3 separate regions of the Homo sapiens genome follow, and regions 2 and 3 are each linked to region 1. Evidence: fine-mapped expression QTL. A gene starts in region 1. Each other region holds a variant in brackets. All regions are shown on one strand. Distances are between the middles of the regions.

Region 1 (5,217 bases):
GCCCTGCCCTGTGTAACCAGCCTGTCCTCACACCCACCAGGGAGGAGGAGTCGGCACTGGTTAACCCTCTGGTCTACCAGGCCCGGTTCCCAGGTTGCAGCAGGGAGACAAACTGTTGCTCAAGAAAATCCTTCAGAAAACCCTTGGCACCAGGAGGCAGCTCGGAGCGGCTCTGCACCCGGCGCGGAGCCAGGGGCTTCCACAGGCGGCCGCCCACTGCCCTTTTAAATCTTTGGGGCTGGGCCCTACTCTCCCATGCCCTGGGCTGTCCACCCAGAGGGCTCCAAATGTCCGTGGCAGAGCAGAGAGGAGGGAAAGGCTGGCCGAGCCGTGCCCTCACCCCGCCAGCCCAGCCGCCAGCTTCTTGGAGGACCTCTGAGAGAACATTTGTTTGGGCTGCCAAGTTAAATCTTCCTCCCTCATGTCAGGGCATTGGAAAAGCAGTCAGGGGAGAGGAGAAGGGGGAGAGCGCGCGGGGGAAGGAGCAGCGGGAGGGAGGGAGGGAGGGAGGCAGGCGGGCAGGCTCAAAGCCCCAGTTACTCGGGCACTGCCTACCCAGGAAGCTGACGGCTCCCGGGCAGGCGCAGCCGGGGCTCCGGGCACCGAAGCAGGGACCCGGCCGTCAGGCCTCCCCGGTCAGGCAAGGGTACCAAGCACCCTTGGCCCACCTGGGAGCGGCCCTCGCTCTGTGACCTGCTGGAGGGACGAGGTGGGAAGGGAAGGCAGAGAAGGAAAAAGTTTGCTGCAGGTAGAGGGGTAGGGCTGGGCGGCAGTGCCGACCGGCTGTCCCCGGGGAGGGGTGGGGGGCCCGGACCGGCTGCCCTGGCGCGCTCCCGTCCGCCCGCCCTCCCGCCCGGGTTGTTTACATTCCTGGAGTGTCTTTTAAACCCGGGGCTGAGGCCGGCTCCCGGCCTTCTCCGGCGGCTCCGGGGCAGTCTCCCGTGAAAATCTGCTGGCGCACAATGGCCGGGAAGGCGGCCGCCCCTCGCCCGCGCCCCCACCGCTCCAGGGCGGGGAGCCTGCCCTCCGCACCGCGCCCTATCCCCGCCCGGCCGGCTTCCTGGACAGATGTCCCCAGCGAGGGGGCGACGCGCGCCCGCTGCCCGCGCCCTAGACGCCGAGGCCGCGCTCCCCACTGTTTTTTCCCCAGCCCAGACGCCAGGAATGTGAAGCAAGCTTCCAGAACCCGCCTCCCCCCCCCGACCCCGGCTCCAGCCCCGGCCCCCCAACCTCCGCCCCGGCTGGCCTCCCACTCCCCCGGGGCCACCGCCGCCGGAGACGGAGAGGAAGAAAGAACACGGGGAAATTACTTTCGTATTTGCAACGCGCGCGCGCACACACACGCACATCTTCCCCCTGGGCTCCCCTCCTGGCCGGGGCAGCCCCGTCCAGGCACTGGCCTGAGCGCCCCTCTGGCTTGCGAAGCCCTGGGAGAAAACCCTGCACACACACCTCCGCGTTTCTCGTTTGTACCGCGCGCCAGCTTTCCCCGGGCAATTCCCACACAAACAACTTAACCGCGCCCCCACCTCCCATTTACAAAAGTGTATGTTTTCCCTGGAAATTCAGACGCACAAGTTAACACCACCACCCCTTGCCATCCTGAAATCCAGCGCTTTCCCCAGCGGTTCCTGTACACACACAGGCGCACAACTTCGCATCTCCCCAGAGGAGGCGAAGGAGACCGAGGCGGTCCTTCCCTCCCTCCTCCGATTCCCGGTCCTGCCCGGCCCCCGGGTGTAGGGAGCGAGGGCTGGAGGCGCGCCGGCAGGAGGCGGGCACCGGGTCCGCGCGCGCACGACCACACTTACGCCCCGCACACCCTGACAAACCCGGCCCCCACGCGCAGCCCAAGCCGGCTCCGCGCAGCCGGGAGCTCGCCGGCCGCCGGGCCTCGGCCCCCGGCCGCCAAGGAGAGCGGAGCGGAGCCCGCGCCGCCGGCCGGTCGCCCCGCTCCGGGGGACACTTTAAGGGAAAAACCCCAGCACCCAATCCCCACGCTTGCACCCCGAGAGTCCCCGGGGAGCGGGAGGTAGCCCCGGAGCCAGCGGGCGCCTGGCTCTGGCCCCAAACTTACCGGGCGCTGCGAGCGCCGCTGCCGCCGCTGGAGGACGCGCCGCCGCCACCGCCGGGTAGGGCAGGCTCGGGCCGGGAGGAGCGCAGCGAGGGCGCCGAGATCCGCTCGGCTCCGGCTCCTGCTCCGCGCCGGCTGGGGCTGGGGTCACCGCGCTGCGCCGGCGTTGCTCGCTCGCTCGGCCGCCCGATCGCTGCTCGCCCGCCTGCCGCCCGGCCGCCCGCTCTCCCCGGCGCCCGCCGCCGCCGCTCGCTTTTTTAATGTCCACAGACAGTGAAAAGGAACTCGGCGTTAGGGGGTGAGTAAGTGAATCAACTCGCCCGGAGCCGAGCAAGTTGAAGTGTCAGATTACATTGGCTATTCTATTTCCAAAGGGCCCCGCGCCGCCGGCCGCCCGCAAAAGCCGGTGCGGAGTCAGGCCGGAGTGGAGCGCCGCGCCGCGCCGCCGCCGCTGCCGGCGCTCGGCTTGGCTCGCGCTCTGCGCTCTCTTTCCCCTTTCCTTTTCGCCTCTCCTCGTTCTCTCCCTCGCCTTTCCTTTCCTTTCTCTTCCTCTCTTCCTCGCTCCTCGGTCTCGGCGCTCTCCCAGCTTTTCTTCTCCTGGCTCCTGGTTCCCCGCTACGCCACCAGTCCACTCACCTCTCTCCTTGCCCTACTCCCTCCGCTACTCCCTGACGCCCCCTGCAGCCCCCAGCCCCCCTGCAGGCCCCAGCCCCAGTAAGTTTGGAGAGGGGAACAAATGCTGAGCCTAGGTAGGGACCACCTTGGGGAGGAAGCCAAAATCACACTGCTCACCCGAGAGCCCCTGCCCCGCGCTGGCACGCCCCCGCCTGGAGTGCACTCGTGGCCCCGGGCGCTGTCAGGTACCCGAATTGGGGTAAGCGAGTTGGTAACTGGACCTCCAAAGCCTTCCCCTGGGGTTGACTTTGGAATTGTTCCTACAGCCCGGGGACTGGTGGTTGGGGTGGGAAGAGGACCACCACCACCAAGGGTGACTTTGAGGGAGACTAGAGCGCGGCCCCCCGACAGCTGTGGGGGAGCGGGGGTGTGGTGGCCACAGTTGATCCGCGGCACCTAGCACAGTCCAGAGACGCGTGGATTCCCCTAGGCCCGGCGCGGAGCGCCCGGGGCGCTGTGCGCGCGGGCTGCGTGGGAGCTGCTAGGCTGGGGCCTGGCCCTCTGCCCCGGACTGGGCACTGCCAGAGATAGCGGAGAGCTAAGGTACTCACGAGGCGCAGTTGGGTGCACCCACTCGCGGGAGTTCCCCTAGCCGACCCACCCCCCCCCCCCGAGAGCATCCAACTACGCGCCCACTTTGGCTCACGTCCACTGCCACTCTCACGGAAACTCCTACAAGAACGGCACACACGTTCGCTCCCTCAGCATTGCAAACACGCTCCCCCCCAAACCACAAACGCGCCCCCACACACTCGCTTACTTTCCCTCACAAAGATGCCCGCTTACACGGCCACAGCAGGCACGCTCAGAGACACGCAGTTACACACACACATCGCTGTACACAACCCCACATACAATCAAAAAACAAAACACGAAACGTTCCCCTGGGCACTAAATCCTCACGTTAACGTACACACACAAACACACGCCCTCCTCTCCCACTTCCTCTTCCATACCCCTTCCTCGAGGCCCCCCACCCCTGATTTTCGGCACCCCCAGTCCCAATCATAATTGGCGCCCGCGCAGCCCTCTTTGGACACACACGCGCCGCCCACGCACGCGCTCCCCTCCCCGGCAGGCGGGGGCGGCTTCGGCCGGGAGCCGGCGGAGCCCGCTTCGGATTCCAGGTGTGGCAGTGACTCCGCGCTCCACGTTTTGCAGGCTGCCACCGTGTCGGAGGCGAGGCGAGGAAGGGAGCTGGAATAACAAAGGCAAGTTGGGGAGAGCGCAAGGGGGCGCAGCCCCGGCCGGGCTGCGGGGGGAGCCTTGCACGGCCGGGGCTTCGGAGGCTGCAGGGTCGGGGGCGCGGGGAGCCGGAGGTGGGGGAGGAAGGGTGGGGGGAGAGGGGCGGGGCTGAGGCGTGACGTCAGAGAACAATGACACCGCCGGGGGGCGGGCACCCGGAGGCGGCCCAGGCGGGGGTCTCCCCCGGGGCCTGGGGCGGGCCGAAGATGTCCAGGCCTGGCCGGAGCCGCCTCCTGATTGACGAGGCCCGCATGGGAGTGCGGACGTGCAGCACAGATTTGCGGGTCTCCTGGGCCTCTTGGGCGGTGATCAGCGCGGACCTTGGGCCAACCGGGGAAGCAGGCCGGAGCACTACCCCCCACCCCCATTTTAGAACATCCTTCTGAGGGCTTCGCTGACCTCGGCTTGAACTCCTTCAGAGCCGGAGAGATCACTCCTTCCACCACCGAGGGAGAGGAGGCAAAATGAATTTGCCAGCTTTGAATTCATTCTCAAGGCTCCGCTAGTCTCACAGCCAGTGAACTCAGTCTGGAATTCCTGAAAGCTCAGAAAACTGCTGCTTAGGTCCACCCGGGCGTGGGGGACGGGGTGTGTGGGGGCGCAGGCGGCGGAGTGGGGGCGTTATTTTATTTTCCCCAGGGGAAATTCTGCCTCCCTATGCCATTGGGTGCAAGAAAAGGCACTCCTTTGGGGCCTCAGTCTTCCTACCTGTCACATGGACATGGACTGTGATGACTGCTGCTCTTCCACCCCCGCCCTCCCTGTAGGTGGCAGCTGAGCATCCCTGGAGAGGGTGGGTGGTATGAAAGCACTTCCAGACCTCTAGGGACACCAGGGAGTCATGGTCCCAGCACATTGCTGTGTGATTGAGCCCCTCCTCAGCCTGTGGGTGGCCTAAGTTCACAGGTAGGTACACCAGGGCCACCTGAGAAACCTCCGAAGGTAGGAATTAAGCTTGCAGAACGGTGGCTGCAGCCACAGCTGTCCCACTCCCAGCAATCCACAGCATTGCAGCAGTGGCAGCAGCCACCCCATACCCAGGTCCAAAATCCCAAAAGAGAGTTTCTGGGTATTTAAGGATTTGGGATGTGATAATCCAGCCCAGCCCACAATTAGACCAGTTCTTGTTGCCTTAATGACCAGCTAGGTCTGGACGCCCAGCCCTCTCAACCTTTCTGTCCAGATTCCTCAATAAGTATCCAGGGCCTGCCCACTTCCAGGAA
Region 2 (5,217 bases), 220 kb before region 1:
CCACTGTCTGCTCATACTTGCCCCTCCCCTGCCTGGATACCCTCTGCCCTAGATTTCTCAGCCTGGCCAGCCCCTCGCTTTCTTCCTGTCTGAGATCGCTGGAGGGGCCTCCCCCGCCCTCCTCGTATAAAAAAGCAGCTCCTACCCGACACTGCCTGCCCCCTCACCCTGGCACTGGAATTTTTTTCATAGCACTCCACCACTGTCCTAATTATATATTTTTTTGATTATTGTCTGTCTGCCTCTAGAACAGCTCTGTGACGGCAGAGACTTTTGTGCTTAGGACCCTGGTGCAAGTTTCCTCACTCAATCTCCTCATCTGTAAAATGGGCATCAGATGATACCTCCCCACTCTACTCTGTGTTTTCCAACTGTGGGTTACAGAATCTGAGCAGGTGATGACATCCAACCAGCAGGGGAGAAAAAAGCATCAACTAGAAAGTGATGGAGTGTGAGCACACAATAAAGATGAAGATTAGTCCTTGAGCTTCTGTCTTGGTTTTATACACAAATACATGTGCACCTTGGGTCAAGGTGTCGTATGTGTATTTATCGTGGATCTTGGTCAAATAGGTTTGAACACAGGTTCAGCAGCCTAAATCTGATGTGGCTCAAAGAGGAGAATGCAGTCAAAGGGCTTTCCCAACTGAGCGCTGCTCGTGATTTCTGGGGAAACTGCAGGACTCGCATTTGGAGTAGAGGAGCTGTACTCAGGGCACTCAGTTGGCCAGGCACAATGATGGGTAGTGGCTTGTTGAAGATCCAGATGCTTGGGCCAAAGGTGACAGATAGCGACAGACTCTGCTCTCCAGGTGGCGGATTGGAGACTGGGAGCCCAGAGGGAGTGGGCAGTGCAGAGAAACACAGGAAAGTAGCCATGAGCCTGCTCCTCAGGAAGGCTGGGCTGGAACAGCCTCTGTCTCCCAGGGAGGTCACTGGGGACCCGGCACACCACCTGGTTCCAGACTGGCACACCAGAGTCTCACAGGGAGGCTCTACAGGTCACGCTTTTACAAAACAAAGAGGAGATCCCCTGGACACCTGCTGTCCTCAAGGCCCATGTCCTAGGTGTGCTGGATGACCAGAGGGGGTCCCCTACATCTGAACAAAACCCAAGCCTGAGTGGCTTCTCGCCCCAGAACTTCTGCCCCACAAGTTCCCACCAACCCTCCAGGCTGATGGCCTTGAGACGGAAGTTCCTATCCTTTGAGAACATGCCTGGCCAGGCTCAGGAAATGAACCCCCATGGGAGGCCCCAGGGGCCGGCAGGGCCCTGCCTGTGGCCAGGGAGTGGGCAACTGCTGCCTCATCACCTCAGCCCAGGACGCTACACAGGCCCACGAACAAGCTCCCAACTGCCCTGCAGCTCCGTGGGTGAGCCTTGTGGGCGGAAACCAGCTCCTTCCTGTTTTGTCCCCTCTGCCCCAAACTTGGTGAGAAGCAAAGCTAACCAACGTTCCCAAACTGGCCATCCCACTGCCTGGCTGGAAGGTTTGCCGCCCCAGAGCAAAGATGCACGCAGGCATATGGAGGACACATCCGTGCACACACGCGAGGCCCTGCTGGCATGCTGCCCGTGCACTGGGGAAGAGACAGGCACAGCGTGTGGGGCAGTCTCAGGACTAGCTTGCCTCCACACGCACCTGCTGCAGAAGCAGAAGTGGCAGCCGCACCGACAGGACCGTGACTCATCTCATTCTGGGGGAGACGGGCTCCTGCTGTCGCAGAGAAGGCTCTCGCCCCCGCAGGCCCCCACAGCAGCCCTGCTGATGTGACGCCACTGCCTAGACTCAAGATACCACCACCGGGGGAATGCCTGGTCCCTGTTCCCAAGGATGAAGGACCAAGCAGACCCCTGGGCTGCTACCAGAAAGGCATGGCCTGGCTGGGATGGGAGGAGGGTCTGGAGGGTGCCTGAGAGCCCTTCTTCTCTCCGACGAGCACAGTTTAACCTGCAGACTTGCTTCACCTGGTCACAGGTGCTTGGCATTTTTTAATAATTCTGTCCCACTCTGTACAACCCTAATCCAGCATGGCCTGCCCAGTATCACACCATAAGCTGCTCCCAGCCACAGTCCTGTCCAGCCAAAACGGCCCCAACAATCCTGCTCCACCCACAGAAGCACCAAGGCCAGAAGCCATCTGCAATGTCAGCAGCAACGGTTCCATTTGCCAACTGCTCCCTAATACAGGGGCCTCTGTGCCTCTTCTCAGGCTGGCAAGTTCCATCCCACCTTGAAAATGCCATTCATCCTTTCCAGGCTCTTCCAAAGGCCACCTCCTCCGGGAAGCCCTTGCAGAAGGTACTGAACTCCACTGGCTCTTCGCATTCCTGGCAAGAGTGAGAACCCTCTGCCTTCTCCCTTCTGCCTCAGGAGCTGTCACTGATTTCTTGGGCTCCCTGAGCCAAGCATGATGTCTTCACACACCAATAGGGCTCAGGAAACCTTTGCTAAACAAAAAAATGTGCCAGGGAGAAACCACCTCTCTGCACTCACCCTTGGAGTGATGCTGAAAATGAATATGTCCATTTCGTTAAGCCTGATGACCGACCACCTACACAGTGTGTCTGTGGCCACATGGCCACTGGGGCCCAG[A/G]AAGTGAGAGAAGGACACAGAGGGAAGCGATGAAACCACTGCTCACTCTCTGTATGCCTCAGCAACCTCATCTATGAAATGGGGCTGATTCAGCCCCTCCCTTCGAAGGCTGCCGTGAGGGTTAAGTGTAAGTGCCTAACATGTATGAGGCCCAGAGTCCCGCACACCTTGGACACCCTGAAACTGCTGGCTGCCGCTGTTACTGTTGTTCTGATTTACTGAGTGACTTCTAGATGCAAGGAATTTTGTGAAGTGGCCTTCACCTAAGAACTCATTCAGTGCCCCATTAAGTGGGCCCAACAGATGCCCATCTTAGAAGCTGGGGCTCACAGAGGTAGCAGAGCCAATCAAGGGCAAGGCTGCCGGGTCACCAGACCGTATCAGGCTCACCACTGTCTTAGGAACTTAGGATCCAGCAAGGCAACGCTCCCCTCTCCAGAGATGGCCACGAGGCAAGGGAGCACACTGCAGAGGCCACCTAGAAGCCACAAGAATTCCAAGAAGGGCTGCATCTTCCTGGGGGTTCTTGGGGAAGTCGCCTAGCACGAAGGGACAGGGGAAATGTAAAGATGGGCCTCAAAGCCCAGCTGCAGAGAAAACCCAAATAGTCTTCCAGGAAAGAATTTCTTTATACACTAAATCGTCTGCTTTAGCTTGTACTGGCCGTGTTGGCAAAGATTCAGGGACCCCTTTTTGAGGTTAATATTCAGCCGACAGAGGGAGGCCCAGCAGGAGAGAGGTTCCCTATGTGGGCTCTGGAGTTACAGTCTTCCGGGTCAAACCCTGGCTCTGCCACTGAAGCTTTCTGTGGCCTTGGACATGTTACTTTCAGTCAGCCTCAACTTTCTCATCTGTAAAGTGGGACTAACACTTTCCTAAGAAACATGAGAAAAAAGTAAAGTTTAGCACAGAACCTGGTAGAAAGACCCTGCTCAACTGTACTTACACCTTTCTCTCCAGTCCTCCAACCAGCCATACACAGCTACCCCTGTTTACTTCAGGATACAATGAAAGTGGCCTAGGAATTTTTCAAATATGCTACCAATGGGAGGAGCCGTTTTCATTCCTACCTGTCAACTAGAAAAAATGTGCTTCTCAAGCCTCTGAGACTTTCTTCATTTTTCTTCTGCCTTCCCTTCACCAGCCAGCAAACTTCTATCCATACTTCAAAGCCCAGCCTGCATACTCCCTTTAAGGACCCTCCTAAGCAGAACCAAGGACACTTTCCTCTGTTCCCTCAGCACTTTTTTCACGTATTTTATAGAGAGCTCTCTGCACTGCAGTCACAGTAGACAGTTTACATGTCTGTGCCAGCTCCACGGGCAATGATCGAGGTTTTGCTGAATGTGAGAAAATGAGCAAGGCCTGGGATAAGGCAGTGATGATTCCTGGCTCCTGTGCACCCGCTATGGCAGCATCTACACACACATTCATGAAAGGAACGCGGGGGGAGGGCTGAGTTATTTCTTCCCTTGCACTTGTAATAGCTGCTTTATTTGGGAGAAATAACCAATTTCCATTAAGGGTATTGTCAGACTCTAATTAATTTCCCTGATCCAGCCATACTGGTCCCGTCTCCGTGCAAGGCTGTAGTGTTACTGCTAATGAAATGCCAAGCCAGTGAGGAGCTGAAGCTCCCACCCTGTTTAATTTAGGGGAACCATTAACAGTGTTCTCCATCATCACAATTACTGGGGCCTACTTCCTTCCCTCCCTGCGGTGAAACTTAGGAACTTGTGCAGCTAACTGCATATTAGAGGGTGTTAAAACTTTTTCAGTAGGAAGGAGGAAAGGAAAAAATCCTTTGCATCTTGGCCATCTGGAACTGATGGTGCAGGGATTTATGGGTCTTTCAATTCTCCCCTTTCCTTCTTTTTTTGTTTTTAAAATGTTCTTGGGGCAACAAAGCCCTAACATAAACTGAGCTTTGGTGAAGCTATGCAAAACCGAGCTAAAAATGGCAGCTGTGGAGATGGTGTGATGTGGCTGGTTTTGATTGCCCCCTTCTTTCTTGTTTGGCCATGAATAAGCACTTAAGAATTTGATGGCACCTGGCTGAGGATCAGGGGAATAATGACTGGTCCATGGGCTCCCAGTGTGCCAGGCTTGGCGACAAGCACACCACTCCTGCCACTGTTGTCACTCCCCTTCTACAGATGAGGAAACCGAGGCACAAGGAGGGTAAGTAACTGGCCAGTTACCCAGCTAGAATATGGCCCAGCTGAAACTCAAGGCCCAGCAGCCTGGCTCCAGGGCCTGTTCCCCGACCTGCTATACTCAGGGGATGCCAGGGGCCCTCCCGCCCAGAAGCCTCTCTGTTGGGGTTCATAAATCCCGCACCTATAAGAAGGAGGAAGGCACCTCTCAATCTTGGAGGCTTCCCCAGCCCTAGCGAGTTTTGACTGTAATCAAATTAACAGCATAAACAAGATTTATTAGGCCTTTAATTACCTTTGCAACACTGATCTGCATAAGGACAATGTGCTAATCACAAATGGCTTTTTAAACCACTCATTAAAAATCTGGAAGAAGGAGGTTGAAAGACTTCACTGGCTTCAAGTCCAGGTCACTGCAGGGACTTGGAAGGTGCCCTACTTGCCCAGGCACTGGTCCTGGACCT
Region 3 (5,217 bases), 230 kb before region 1:
CAGCCTCACACAGCACATCACATTCCCCAGCCAGAATGGGATGTGCTGCCCAGGTCTGTGACCCCTATCTCTGTGTAGCCTCCGTGCCCCTAAGCTCACAAGGGTGGATCAGAGTGTTTCCTTCTCCATGCCTCCACAGAGAGGCCAGTGGAGTGGGGCAGGCAATTTACTTCCACTGGGGCCTGAGCAAGCCCTGTGTGTTGGGCCCTGATCTTCAGGGGACATGAGGGTGGCTGAGAGCTGGTCCTAGGTAACAAGTCACGGGTTGGAAGGACCCCCATACGTGACTCTAAGACAAGGGGGTTGGGAAAGAAGGGAACGCGTTAACTCCAGGTTTGGGGGCGTTGGGTCTGGGGGAAAAGGTGCTGACAATGACAACTGCTGGTGAATGAGGCAAGCAGGACATGGCTTTGAGGAACACAGAACTGCACCAATGAATGAAGGGTAGGGAGGAGGGGCCAGGAGGGGTGAATCGGAAGCATGTGTGGAGAACAGACGGAGGCTGAGTGTCCAGGGGAAGAGGCCACGTCTGAAGCCAGGGCACAGTGGCTTTGAAGGCCCAACGGTTTGAAGGTTATTGCACAGGCCCTGGGCACAGGTAAGGGGACGCTGTATCTTTGGCGGCTGTGGGCACGGGGGTGGTGACGCAGGGACAAGGCTGAGGACCAGAGTGGGGCAGGGTATTCCGCACTCTCATGCCGTGAAACAGGGCCTGCCTGTGCCAACGCTGCCCCTGGCCCACCACACTCACGCAGCAGCAGGCCGTGACGGTGATCTGGATGGTGTTGCGGCCCGGCTGGCACACGTGCTTCAGGTGCAGGGGCTTGTGGGAGGTCTTGTTGTCGCCGCGCTCAATGGTGAGGGGCGTGGCGTTCACGCTGACCTGCACCGAGGCGGGCCAGTTGGTGTTCATCTGCCGGTCCTCGTGGTGGTAGCACTTGAACTGCAGCTCCAGGTCAGACCTAGGTGGGGAACGAGGGTGCTCAGGGCAGCTCTGCCAGGGGGCTGTCCATGGCCTCCGTGACCCCGAGCCAGGTCACACACCTCTAAACACACCACAACCTCCGAGATCCTCAGGACCCCATCCCTGACCCCAATGATTCCCCCAGCCTGAGTTCTCCTCTCCCATTCTGGATACTCCCTCTACACCCAAACTGCCCCCAAGACCCCCGCACACCAATCATTCCCATCACACCCCACAGCTCTAGCTCCCATCTCCCTGGAATGTCCTCCCTGTAGGGGTCAACTCCTGGATCCCCAGGACAGAGACAGAGGGGCAAATGAACAGGCACTCATTTGACAAGACCTGCTGTGAGGCCAGCCAACCCCATCTCTAGACCTGCTGGGAGCTGTCCTCCCAGGCCACGGCCATTTCTGGTTCTGAGCACTCCCCAAGGAGGCCCCCCAAGGACGCAGCACTGAGGAGTGTCAGGAACCAGCAGTGACCATATATGTGTGACAAGCAAGCCAGGAAGAGGAGGCCTCCCAGGCCAGGACACTCCCAGCTAAGGAGCGTGGGTGAGCAGGGTGCAGGCAGGCAGCACAGTGGTTTGTCCCGTGCCAGGGACCTCTGTCCTCCTGCCTGAGCGTTGCAGCTCCTGTGTTCTGAACGCCCACACCAGCTATCTGTGGCCACCTCACCCAGCCTGCTCAGCATGGTCAAGAAAACAGCAGGGGTGTGTGTGCATGTGCCAGGCACAGACCCAGCTCTTGCGCTGGAGATGCTCACTGGGCAGTCAAGGGGGTCTGAGTCACAAGCACAGTGAGACTGTGAGTCTTGACTGAGGATGAAGGACTGAAGGGTGGACACCCCCAGGGTTGGTTCTGGCATCCTGGAGACCTGGGCCCAAGTCTCAGCTCCGCCCCTGGCTAGCTGTGAGAACTCACACAAGCCAATTCACTTCTCTAGCCTCAGCTTCCTCCTCTGTCAAAAGGGAAAGTGTTGCCCATTTCCAAGATCAAAGTGGGTCACACGTGGAAGGTGCTGAGCATGGGCCTGGCTCAGCAGGGAACCTCCGGACCTTGTGTTCCAGCACGTGCCTAAGTGTCTGAGCAGCAGCCCTGCCCAATGGTCAGCCCCCTGCAATAGATGGGGCCTGCCTGACCCCGGCCTGGCCCTTGCACCAGCCTCATCTCTGCATTCCTGGCTCTGGCCACATGAGTCACACTCGAATTCTTGACTGCGTTCCCTCTTGTCAGCTCACGGTCTCAGATGGGATACACAGCTTCCCAGCCTAGGTCTGAGCCAGCCACCTTTTCCTCTGGGGTGAGTGACAGCTGCTCCCTGCCCTTGGGCCACGACACCTTGACTGCTCATCTACCTGTGCACCTGCAGACTTCCCATGACAACCGCAGGACAGGGCCCAGTCAATGATGCTGAACACGTGAAGGTGTCAGAAGATGCTGCTACCCCCTGCCCAGGGCCCCACTCGGGCCCAAGGAAGCCATCCCAGGGGACCTCCTTCATCCCGCCTGGGCTGGCGCCCCTGCCCTGACACGCACCTCCACATCAGCGTCTGGTGGACCGTGGGCCGCAGGTGGAACACATGGTTGCTGACCGCCAGGTTGTGCTCCAGGCGGAAGGGCTCCAGCACCACGCCATCCCGCACAGGGAATGTGAGCCGCAGCTCGTCATTGTGGTTGGCTGGGGCGAGGAGAGGAGGTGGGTGAGCCACAAGCCTCAGCTGCCATGGGTTCTGGGGCTGTAGGTGGGACTTGCTCACCCTGGGCTGCATGCTCAGAGGAAGGCAGGGGTGTGTAAACAGGGCCAGAGACATAGCCAGTCCAAGGGCACACCAGTGAGTCATGGCTTCTTCGATTCTACACGGCCCCGCCCCAG[C/A]GACTCATCCCCTCTTCTTCCACCCGCCTCCTTGCATCCTTCCATGGCTGCGTATAGATTTTCCTCCCAGCCTCCAGGCGCCCAGGCAGCAGTAAGAAAGGCTGTCTGTGAGCTGCCTACCCCGCCTTGAGTGTGCCCCTGGGTATCTCACCTGCTCTCAACTCTCTGCCCCTTCTGATGCCCACTCCCCAGGCAGCCTGACTGCGAAGCCCCTGCTCCCGGCCCACTGGGGGGCCCAGGTGGAGCTGCCAAGAGAGGGAGGGAGGGCCCTCACCTGGGGGTGGTGGCAGAGCGCTCATATTTGGCTTGATGTCAGGCGGGAAGGGTGGTTTGACGTCTTGGCTGGGGGACAGGTATGGAGGGATGCTGCTCCCAGGGGTCATGGGGGGTGTGGGGTTCCCTGGAACAGGTGAGTGGGGGTAATTTGCCACAGGAACCGGCCTGGGAGGCTGGAGGGAAAGAAAAGACACGCACGAGTTATGGGATTACGGAGACAGAAGGGGCCATGGCTATGGACATACACCGCACTCATCCCAGGGGCCTGGAGCCATGCCCCTCGGGAGGAGAGCCTCCTCCAGGGAAACTCTTCTCTCTCGCAGATCTCTGTCCTGCTCAGAAGACAGCCCTGGGAAGGGCCTCCCCACCCTTCATCTGGGTCTCACCACTGAGCTCCTGTGTCAGGTGCCTGTGGAGACCCTTACCCATCCCTGTGATAAATGGGGACACAGAGGCTCAGGGTTGGGGACTTGCTCAGCACAACCCTTGGAGGACAGGACAGCGGGAATGAAGCCCAGGCCTCCTGTCACCCGAGCAGGTGGGCTTCCCACATCACGACTCAAGGCCACACCCTCTATGCCTACCCCATCAGGGTCCCCAGGTGGAGTCGGGGCCTGCAGAATCTGGGGCCCAGGTTCCCCAGGAACCCCTCTCCCTCTCCTTGTTTTCAAGACTAGCCAGGCTGACACTTTACCCTGGGGCTCACCCCACCTGGAGCCGTGGATTCTCAGTCCTGAGCATCTCTGTCCCCAGGACAGGGGACCAGGGAGTGCACCCCCACCCATGGGCCCCTTTGAATGTCCAGAGAGGCTGGAGCAGGAACAGTGAGAACCTTTAGAGGCAACAACTCCCTGTGGCTTAGAATTTGTAAATTAAATTGGAACATACCCTGTTGACATTCCCTTGGCTGTAGTTACTGTAGCTGCTTCCCGAGAACGTGTTATTTTGTCCATTAAACTGTTCTGGCTATTAAAACAAGATAAACAACACTGAGTGGGGGGCAGAAAAGCCATCAGAAGCCCGCTCTCCCTCTGGACAGTAAAATCTACCAGGAGCACGGGGATGCTACAGGGGCCCATCCACTGCTGGGTATATTGAGTGAGCAGGGCGGGACAGCTACACCTCAGGGACGGCATTTTGCCTCTCTCTGTCCCTAGCTATTAATTTAGCAGAAGTTACAAAAATAGCAACACCTAGTATGCTGAAGTTGGAGCAAAAACGGTAAACCTGTTTGGTAGATGGCCATAATAAATTAGCATGATTTTTGGCAAATAAATGTAAAATAATAAAGTGTCTTCTTTACTCCCAAGAAAATAATCCTAAGGAAAGGAAAGGCTATATGCCTGAAGATACTCATCATAGTGTTATTTCTAAAGTGAAAAATCAGAAGCAACCCAAATACCTAACAGAAGGAATAATAAAATATGATATGGTGATCTCAGCAGAATATTAGGCAGCCATTAAAAGTAAAAACCCCAGGGGCTCTAGTAGCAGTAAGTATCATCCTTATTATGTCATGTTAAGTAAAAGGTACAGATTCAAAGTTACAGCTGTAATAACAATTTTATAACATGTTAGTGCCCACCTGCACATACAAAGTTTAGAATGAAATGTTAATATATACAGGGGATGTGTGTTTTTTTAATAAAATATATTTCCTTTATTATTTTGTGAGTGCCGTGAATAAGAAAAGGAGAAAAAAAAACCATCATCCGAGACGAATGAGAATAGGAACTGAGAAAAGCCACTCTGACATTCTGGCCACCGAACTTCGCCCTGAACACATGGGGACGTTCAGAAATCACCCACCCCTCGCTGTCCTTGGGGCAAACACACGCAGGGTCAGAGTGATCCCGGTGGAGTTAGGGGAGTGAGGTGGTTAGGAGGGAAGGGGCCCCGTGGGTGGTGGCGAGGCTGGGACTCACCTTGTAATACTGCCCCATGTTGACCGTGGGGGGCGGGTACTGCCCGGAGCTCGGCTGGCTGGGCATCCTCTGTCCTGGGTAGTTGGGGGAGGTGAGTGGCCTCGGGGGGTTGGGGGCTGGGTACTGGCCTGGCTGGGTGGGGAACTGGCTGTTTGGTCCATATTGCTGGTTTCCATA

The links.
Region 2: its variant is fine-mapped to the expression of ZMIZ1 in blood mononuclear cells (TOPMed, PIP above 0.99).
Region 3: its variant is fine-mapped to the expression of ZMIZ1 in whole blood (TOPMed, PIP above 0.99).

Annotation. Positions count from the first base shown.
Region 1 is chr10:79,066,131-79,071,347 of GRCh38, reverse strand. ZMIZ1 (zinc finger MIZ-type containing 1) reads right to left here and starts at 2,382. Exons shown (of 25, transcript NM_020338.4): 1 at 2,078-2,382. ZMIZ1-AS1 (ZMIZ1 antisense RNA 1) reads left to right here and starts at 3,900. Exons shown (of 10, transcript NR_024431.2): 1 at 3,900-3,960; 2 at 4,762-4,900. RefSeq lists enhancers at 1,372-1,421, 2,623-3,468, silencers at 1,622-2,601, 2,862-2,931, 3,732-3,941, 4,042-4,091, 4,132-4,341 and a cis regulatory region at 2,064-2,749.
Region 2 is chr10:79,282,904-79,288,120 of GRCh38, reverse strand. All of the region lies in intron 8 of ZMIZ1 (zinc finger MIZ-type containing 1), which reads right to left. Among named protein-coding and RNA genes, the nearest start is that of PPIF, 62 kb to the left of the region's middle. RefSeq lists enhancers at 849-1,499, 1,334-1,953, 1,500-2,150, 2,364-2,553, 3,004-3,123 and cis regulatory regions at 1,278-1,778, 1,287-1,787, 1,303-1,803, 1,401-1,901, 2,389-2,889. The variant A/G (reference allele first, on the strand shown) is at 2,598.
Region 3 is chr10:79,296,477-79,301,693 of GRCh38, reverse strand. It overlaps ZMIZ1 (zinc finger MIZ-type containing 1), which reads right to left. Exons shown (of 25, transcript NM_020338.4): 13 at 5,041-5,217; 14 at 4,004-4,081; 15 at 3,114-3,288; 16 at 2,503-2,644; 17 at 752-962. Among named protein-coding and RNA genes, the nearest start is that of PPIF, 48 kb to the left of the region's middle. The variant C/A (reference allele first, on the strand shown) is at 2,840.